Regions from separate parts of the Homo sapiens genome. Here region 2 is linked to region 1. Evidence: fine-mapped expression QTL. A gene starts in region 1. The other region holds a variant in brackets. All regions are shown on one strand. Distances are between the middles of the regions. Region 1 holds the start of PCSK6 (proprotein convertase subtilisin/kexin type 6). Region 2 holds the start of LOC100507472 (a long non-coding RNA gene).

Region 1 (4,380 bases):
TGAGAGTTCTGGGTACTGTTTCTGTCCAACAAGTATGGCCGGTTCTCCTCTAGGGCTGCCAGTTTGCATGAGGGCCTCATGTCTCTCCACTGGCAGGGGCTGGTGAGCATCCAGTCCATCTGTAGGAGGGACACACGGTGGCTGTCTTCTGCAGTGTGGGCAGGCCTGGAGTGACGGCCCAAGCAGCTGACCCCACTTGCCAGGGGAACGCAGGGAGGTGAAGTTACATCTAGTGTAGCAAAGCGAAGGCCATGTGGGACGTTGATCTCCAGGTTCCAAGATGGGCCCTTGGCAGGAGCCCTTGTGAACATGGATGTGGCCTGTTGGGATGGGGCCTCCCACCACGCCTCCTGTTCTCCCACCTCCATTAGGGGTGACTCACACCTGAAGAAATGATGAATCACGTGGGTTACAAAACCAAAGGGCTCCTGAGAGCGAGGCTGGAAAGGACCTCGGAAACCATCTATGCAGATCCTGTCCTCAGCCCATCCCCTCTCGCCCCAGCCTCTCACCTCCAGCTGCCAAGCCACAGACTCCAAGTGAATCCTGCACGCTCAACAAGAGACCGCTCCTGGAACTGACCATCAGAGAAGCAGCTTCCTTCCCACCTCAAGGCCTTCTCGACCTTTTTGTTTTACTTCCTATATTAAGCAGGTTGATGGCTTGCTTTCTGGAAGTGGGCCAGTAGGACCAATGGGTCCTGGGAGGGATGACAGAAGAGATCCAGCAGCGATCCTTACCCTTCATAATTCCTTGATTATGGTGTGAACATTTCCATCCATCTCCAGGGTGCTTCAAATCATTATCCACTGGATACCAGGCTGCTCCAGGAAGCAGGGGTGAGGATGATTCAGCTGACTTTCTACTGCTGGTCCCAGCTCAGTGGGTGCTTTTAAGAGTGTACATCGTCTAGTGAACACCTACCACACGGCAGGCCCTGGGCTCATAAAAACGAACGTTTACGGACAGCTTATTGTACAGCAAAAGCTGACCTCATCCTCAAATCAGCCCGACGGGGTAGATGCCACTGTTCCCCGCATTTTGCAGGTGGGGCGCCTGCCCTCAGCCACCACAGTCATTTGCCCAAGATCGCAGCGAGGCTAAGCGGACGGCCTGGGGGTTCACCTGCACGGCCTGGGGGTTCACCTGCGCGGCCTGGGGGTTCACCTGCACGGCCTGGGGGTTCACCTGCGCGGCCTGGGGGTTCACCTGCGCGGCCTGGGGGTTCACCTGCACGGCCTGCCTCCCAGCATGGGCCGCGGCCTCCGCCATGGGCTCCGTGCGGTGGTTTCTCGGGTACACGCTCGTGAGCCCGGCTGATGCGCCACATGCCTTTGCCCCGCTCAATGTGTCCCTTCAGCCAGGCTTGGTCCCGGGCGACCCACTGTCTTCCCCGCAGCTTCTTCTCCCTGGGACCCCGCACACGGGCGAGCCCTCCGTCTAGGGAGGCGGGCGAGGCCGCCAGGCGTCTGAGGCCCCCGCCAGGTGAGTGCGGCCTTCGGGTGTCCGGCCGGTCTAGGGAACCGGGGACTCACCTGAGACGCCGGGGCCTCCCCGCTCCCAGCAGAACTCGCGGGCCGAGGACGCCTCTGGGGCGGCACCGCGTCCCGAGAGCCCCAGAAGTCGGCGGGGAAGTTCCCCCGGTGGGGGGCGTTTCGGGCCTCCCGGACGGCTCTCGGCCCCGGAGCCCGGTCGCAGGAGCGCGGGCCCGGGGGCGGGAACGCGCCGCGGCCGCCTCCTCCTCCCCGGCTCCCGCCCGCGGCGGTGTTGGCGGCGGCGGTGGCGGCGGCGGCGGCGCTTCCCCGGCGCGGAGCGGCTTTAAAAGGCGGCACTCCACCCCCCGGCGCACTCGCAGCTCGGGCGCCGCGCGAGCCTGTCGCCGCTATGCCTCCGCGCGCGCCGCCTGCGCCCGGGCCCCGGCCGCCGCCCCGGGCCGCCGCCGCCACCGACACCGCCGCGGGCGCGGGGGGCGCGGGGGGCGCGGGGGGCGCCGGCGGGCCCGGGTTCCGGCCGCTCGCGCCGCGTCCCTGGCGCTGGCTGCTGCTGCTGGCGCTGCCTGCCGCCTGCTCCGCGCCCCCGCCGCGCCCCGTCTACACCAACCACTGGGCGGTGCAAGTGCTGGGCGGCCCGGCCGAGGCGGACCGCGTGGCGGCGGCGCACGGGTACCTCAACTTGGGCCAGGTGAGTGCGGCCGGCCCCGCGCGCCCAAAACTTTCCCGGCGGCCTCCGGCGCGCGCGAGGGGGGCGCCTCCGCAGTCCTGTCCGCCCGGCCCCGGCCCCGCGCGCGCGTGGGAAGGCTCCGGGACCGCTTGGGGACGGCGGGCGGCCGGGGCGCCCTGCGGGGGGGGGTGTCGCCCGGGGGGGCGCGCGCGGGACACTCGGCGGGGTGGGGGGGACTGGGGTCCCGCGTGGGCGCCCACGCAGGTCCGGCGCGCCGACCGCAAGTCCCCCGGCAGTGCCGCCCAACCCCGCGCTCGGAAGTGTGGCCTCAGAAGCCGGGGCGGCGCGGACACCTGCCGGGCTCCGGGGGAGTCTGGGCTGCCTCAGGCGTCGCGCGCCGTCCGCCGCTGGGTCCTGGGCGCCCACCCGGCTCTCCCCCGCGGGGGAGCGGCCCCTCTGCCCTCGACGGGCGGCGCGAGCTCCGGACCCGGTGCGCGCGCCAAGGCGGCCGCGGCCGCTGCTTGGGTGACATGAGCGTGGCCCGGCGTCTCGGGGACTCGCGCTCCCTCGGTGTCCGCGGCTCCCGGGGGTAGATGGCCGGGAGCCTGCACCCTGGAGCCCGGCCGCCGTCGGAGAGGCCTTGGGACAGCGCAGGGCCGGGGGTCCTGGGTTTAAAACCTCTCCAGGAGCGGAGGGAGGGCGCTTTGTGTGGGGGCTTCTGCCGCGGTTCTGATGGCCGAGCGGTGTGACCTTTGGCAAGTCGCTCCCCTGACAAGCTCCTTTGCAGTCAGTGGCAATGTCTACACCGCTGGGTTGTCGGAAAGATCTAATGCTGCGTTGCCACAGAGCCTGGACCGGGGCCTGACCCTCACCGGCCCCCACGGGGCCCTCCCAGCCCCGCAGCCCTCGGCTGTCCCCTCTTCTGTCAGTGAGCAAGCAGGCCACGCCCTGGGCACAAAGGCGGCATTACCCTCAAAGGACCTCCCGGCGGGTCCCTTTTTCCTCTCTCAACCAGCTACCGGGCTGAGGGGCGGTGAGTTGGGGTTGATCCATGTTTATGGCTCCTGGAGAGGCCGTTATTTTGAGGTCACACCAGGGGACCTCTCAGTGCAGTTAACAAATCTACAAACTACACACTCAGAGGGTTAAGTGAAGTGACAGGGAAGCACCGACTCATAACTCTAAACCTTAGTGCCAGGCAGTGTTAAATGTAGTTTCATCGTTATCCGTGGCAGAAGCCAGCAAGGTGTGGTGGCGTCCCTGATTGATAGAAATGACATTAGTTCTGCATCCCAAGCCCCACGTTGATGTACTATTAGGTGTGTGGCTGGAGGGGTGGATTCCACCATTCGAATGAAGGAATCTTCACAAGGCAGGTTCGAGTTTACTGAAAGAATGCTAGCACATCTTTGGAGACCTTTTAAATATATGCATATATATATATAAAATGTTACATATATACACATATACACACATACATATACGCACATGTATATCCATATAGATATTTAGTTTTTTTAACCACTCAAGGCCCTCCAAACATCCTGTGATTTCAGATTTTGCCGTCGGGTAGCACTGACTTCGTTTGTCTCTGTAGTTCTTGACTCTCCCTGGCTGATTGTCCAGGCTGAAGAAGGTGTTCCTCATGTTTGCGTAGTGCCCCTGGCTCCTGCCACACTTCGCTGCTGTGCCCAGGTGGCCCAGCAATTTGTCTTCAGCTAAAAGTGACTCTTAAACTACGCGATAAATTACAAAGTGCCTGGGTTTTGGGATTCTAAAATTAAATGAGCAGAATGGAGCTGAAATTGAGCTGTGAGCTCACACTGCAAGAGAGAGGCAGAGAGGCACAGGTAACTCTCCCCGGAAATTTCTATCTGTGGGAATAAAAATGCCTAACCCTTGGCCATGCCGCCCCTTTGAGACAACCTCTGTCAGGCTCACTGAGTTCTTAGTGCAGTCTGCTCTCCTGGTTTTGCGGATGGGAGAGAAGATTCGCCCCGATGCACACTCCGTACCCAGGATATTCTGGGGAGTTAATCGGGGTCTCCCCAGCTCTGTCTAGTGCAGCCAGCATGAATGCCACGCAGCCCGGTCACTCAGGCATGGTGCTGGCAGTGGCACTGCGGTGACATTCACTAACAGAGATTAGCTGGTTGGGGATAGGAGCTGTCTCAGAGGCTTGTGTGTGATTACTCACGGAGGGCCTATTACTCTTTATTC
Region 2 (4,380 bases), 180 kb after region 1:
CAGGCAGCTGTGTCCAGCAAAGGAGTGCCTGGAGGGCAGAGTCTGGCAGCATCTTCCCCAGGGGCCGGGGAGGGCATGTTGCATCACCCCACTGTGGACAGGAGCCCATTTACAGAGCTGCTGAGGGGCCTTCGTCCCTTTGTTCACTGGATGCATATTTGTTGGGTCCCTGCTGTGGGCAGACACCGTGCAGCAGCGGGATAAGATGGGAAGCAGAATAGCAAGGTGCTCACACCCCATTGGTGGACTACGCGGGACGTCCCTGCCCATGTCGCGCTCAGCATGCATCCTTTGCACTGTCGATAATCAGAGAAACCATGTTTTGGGTTAAAAAAAAATTTTTTTGGAGACACACTCTCACTCTGTCGCCCAGGCTGGAGTGCACTGGTGTGACCTCAGCTCACTGCAACCTCTGCCTCTGGGATTCAAGCAACTCTCATGCCTCAGCCTCCCGAGTAGCTGGGACTACAGGCGTGCACCACAATGCCCAGCTAATTTTTGTTTTTGTTTTCGTTTTTTTTGAGATGGAGTCTCGCCTGTCGCCCAGGCTGGAGCGCAGTGGGCGATCTCGGCTCATTGCAAGCTCCGCCTCCCAGATTCACACCATTCTCCTGCCTCAACCTGCCGAGTAGCTGGGACTACAGGCACCCGCCACCACTCCCCACTAATTGTTTGTATTTTTAATAGAGACCGGGTTTCACCACGTTGGCCAGGCTGGTCTCGAACTCCTGGCCTCAAGTGATCCACCCACCTCAGCCTCCCAAAGTGCTGGGATTACGGGTGTGAGCCACCACACCTGGCCTAAAATATTTTTTTTAGTTAGATACTTAGAGAAATTAAAAAGATCCTGACAATTTCCTCATTCTAAAGCTGTTCTCTGCACAGTCCACGCACATCTATTTTCACCCTCCATATCCTCCTCTTGTGCTTCCTCCCATGTGTCCCTCCACAGAGTCACCATTCTTATTTGATGGCCCTGGACCCTTCTGTTGTTGGACATGAGCTGTTAAAGGAGGAGCTGTTTGCTCTGGTCTCCTCTTTTCTGGCTGAATATTGCCCTATGTTGGGAGATCATGAACTCAGGACCCAGAACAGGGCAGGGCAACCTGTCTTATTCAGGGTGGGAGCAACATTGAGGAGTTTGAAGGGACCTGTGAGGGTGTGACGATGGGGTGAGCTGTGAGGGGTGACGATGGGGTGGGCTGTGAGGGGTGACGATGGGGTGGGCTGTGAGGGGTGACGATGGGGTGGGCTGTGAGGGTGTGACGATGGGGTGGGCTGTGAGGGGTGACGATGGGGTGGGCTGTGAGGGGTGACGATGGGGTGGGCTGTGAGGGGTGACGATGGGGTGGGCTGTGAGGGGTGACGATGGGGTGGGCTGTGAGGGTGTGACGATGGGGTGGGCTGTGAGGGTGTGACGATGGGGTGGGCTGTGAGGGGTGACGATGGGGTGGGCTGTGAGGGGTGACGATGGGGTGGGCTGTGAGGGGTGACGATGGGGTGGGCTGTGAGGGGTGACCATGGGGTGGGCTGTGAGGGGTGACGATGGGGTGGGCTGTGAGGGGTGACGATGGGGTGGGCTGTGAGGGGTGACGATGGGGTGGGCTGTGAGGGGTGACGATGGGGTGGGCTGTGAGGGGTGACGATGGGGTGGGCTGTGAGGGGTGACGATGGGGTGGGCTGTGAGGGGTGACGATGGGGTGAGCTGTGAGGGAAGTACCAGGCGTTAGCCTGCTTTCACAGTGCTAAAAAGAAATACCTGAGGTTGGGTGATTTATAAAGAAAAGAGGTTGAATTGGCTCACAGTTCTGTAGGCTTCATAGGAAACATGGCGCCAGCATCTGCCCAGCGTCTTCACTCCTGATGG[C/A]AGGTGAAGCAAGGGCAGCACATCACATGGCAATAGCAGGAGCAAGAGAGGGAAGGAGGCCGGGCACGGTGGCTCACGCCTGTAATCCCAGCACTTTGGGAGGCCAAGGTGGGCGGATCACCTGAGGCCAGGAGTTCAAGACCAGCCTGGCCAACATGGCAAAACCCCTTCTCTACTAAAAAAAAAAAAAAAAAAAAATGCAAAAATTAGTTGGACGTGGTAGTGTGTGCCTGTAATCCCAGTCTTACAGGAGGCTGAGGCAGGAGAATCGCTTGAACCAAGGAGGCGGAGGTTGCAGTGAGCTATGATCGCACCATGCACTCCAGCATGAGCGACAGAGCAAGACTCCATCTCAAAAGAAAAAAAAAAGTCAGGAGTTGCCACACACCTTTAAACAAGCAGCTCTCACATGAACTCACTCATCACCAAGGGGATGGTGTGAGGCCATTTATGAGGGATCCACCCCATGATCCAAACACCTCCCACCAGGCCCCACCTCCAACACTGGGGATCACATCTCATCATGACACTTGGAGGGGACAAATGTTCAAACCATATCGGGGGGCTTCCGTCTGAAAAAGACTGAAAATGAGGGAGCCCTCAAAGGCTTGTGTCAGAGCAGGGGAGGGGTGCCCATGGCTGGCTGCCAGCTGGGTACCGATTCACCACACAGTGGGGTCTGCCTCCCAGGCTGTGTGTAAGAACCACTGTGGGTTGTAACCTATTCCCCTAGAAACAAAGCCCTACAGTGAGCCCATGAGGGACCACCAAGCCCTTGCACTTGTCTGACCCACAGCAGAGGGACCTGGTGGCGGTTACGTATCTCGGCAAGCATCAGCCCCTTCTACTGCGTTGCTGTAATGGAGGAAACTTGCCACCCGCTTGCAAGGTGCAGCCTTGCTGAGTCCTGCACGGGGCCCTGGGCACAGTTGTCTGAAGTTAAACCCTTCATGGTAACCAGTCAGCTGGTTCTCAGATAATTAAATATAGCAATCCAGGGAGAACTTGGAATTAAACAGTGATAATCACTTTCATTTGTCAAATGCCCTGGATTTCAGGGCATGCTGATCATGCCCACAGCTGTGCAACTGGACCCCTGCAGGCAGCCCCACCGCAAACCTCTCTTTGCCCCTCAGGAGGCAGCAGGCGGGCAGCCCCACCGCAAACCTCTCTTTGGGCAGTGGAGGACAGGAGTTTCCTGGGTACTTGTTCCCAGGTGAGGGGCAGCTTTCGGCCCTGCAGAGGCTGACAGTGCTGGGGCTGACACACCGGGTCTTGGAGAAGCACCCCCCAGGAAGAGCGTCAGTGTGGACGCCTCCCAAAGGAAGCAAGGCCTTGGTCCGATTGGTTCTGCGGGGTCTCTCCCCACTTGGACAGCCTGAGCTGAGAACCACAGGCATCCTCCAGGCCCCAGAATGCTGGTGGACGCCGTGGCCGTCCGCTGCTGCTGTGCCAGGCAGCTCCGAGGGAGCATGTGGCCAGACGGGCTGCGTTGGAACATGCAGGTCAGGACGCAGGCCTGCTGGGTTGGCAACTGCAGGTGGAAGCCGAGGCCCGACGCTGAGAACAATGCCTGATAAGTTCCCTAAGAGAGGGGCCGAGGCCCGACGCTGAGAACAATGCACGATAAGTTCCCTAAGAGAGGGGCCGGACACCCTCAAGACCTAGTGAGAGGACCCAGCAAGAGCCAGCCTGGACAACTTGGAAGAAAAACAGGCCTCTGTGGAGTGCTTGCCAGCGGGGGAGGCAAACTCCTCATGCCCTGGCCCTGCCTCCACTTGCCCCCAGGCTCAGCGGGGGCAGAGACTCCCAGGGGCACAGCTTGAAGGGGCACGCCTTCTGCCAATGCGCATGCTGCGTCCAGGCTGGAGCATGAAAGCGTCAGTCTTCTGCATCCCACTCCTGAACAGGCAGGAGGCTGATGGGAGTGGCCTCTGCAAGGGAGCAGGGACAGAGGGCTGCATCCGGCATCCCTGTCCTTCCAGAATGTGGCAGGGCAAAGCGGCCATGGTGTTTGGGGGAAAAGTAGGTACCATAGATGGTTGCAGAACCAGAAGCATCTTAAAAGCCACCCTGCCCAAAGCTGGTGCTGCCCACGAGGACCCGCTGCTGGGCACGGTAATCCTGACGGAAAGCAGGAGCTACACAGGGTCTCCCAGGGAGAGCCGTCTGCACTGGCCTAACGGGGACGGGAGCATCACCCATCTCCCTGAGCAGCATGGTGATGGATTATTTCCCCAGACCTCCAGAGGAGAGCCCAGCCTGGCCACCACCTTGCCCTGAACCTCGTGAGACCCTAGGTGGAGAGCCCAGCTGCACCTGCCTGGACTTCTGCCTGCATAGCGGGGAGCCGCTGAGTGGGTGTTATTTTCAGCTGCTGAGTGTGTGGCAACCTGGTTAGAGCAATGGAAAACCGAGGCCCCTGCCATCCTGCTGAGCTGGGTGAGGTTGTATTTGAAGAAGCAAGCAAGCCGTAACCTCCTGGCTGTCCACCGCAGCGCGCTCCTCACCAC

The links.
Region 2: its variant is fine-mapped to the expression of PCSK6 in whole blood (TOPMed, PIP above 0.99).

What each region holds. Positions count from the first base shown.
Region 1 is chr15:101,487,175-101,491,554 of GRCh38, reverse strand. It overlaps PCSK6 (proprotein convertase subtilisin/kexin type 6), which reads left to right and starts at 1,848. Exons shown (of 22, transcript NM_002570.5): 1 at 1,848-2,181. The coding sequence starts at 1,885. LOC124903566 reads left to right here and starts at 2,402. Exons shown (of 2, transcript XM_047433427.1): 1 at 2,402-4,380. LOC107987228 (a long non-coding RNA gene) reads right to left here and starts at 1,788. Exons shown (of 2, transcript XR_001751730.2): 1 at 1,231-1,788; 2 at 1-1,167.
Region 2 is chr15:101,308,971-101,313,350 of GRCh38, reverse strand. All of the region lies in intron 20 of PCSK6 (proprotein convertase subtilisin/kexin type 6), which reads left to right. LOC100507472 (a long non-coding RNA gene) reads left to right here and starts at 4,047. Exons shown (of 1, transcript NR_045387.1): 1 at 4,047-4,380. The variant C/A (reference allele first, on the strand shown) is at 1,868.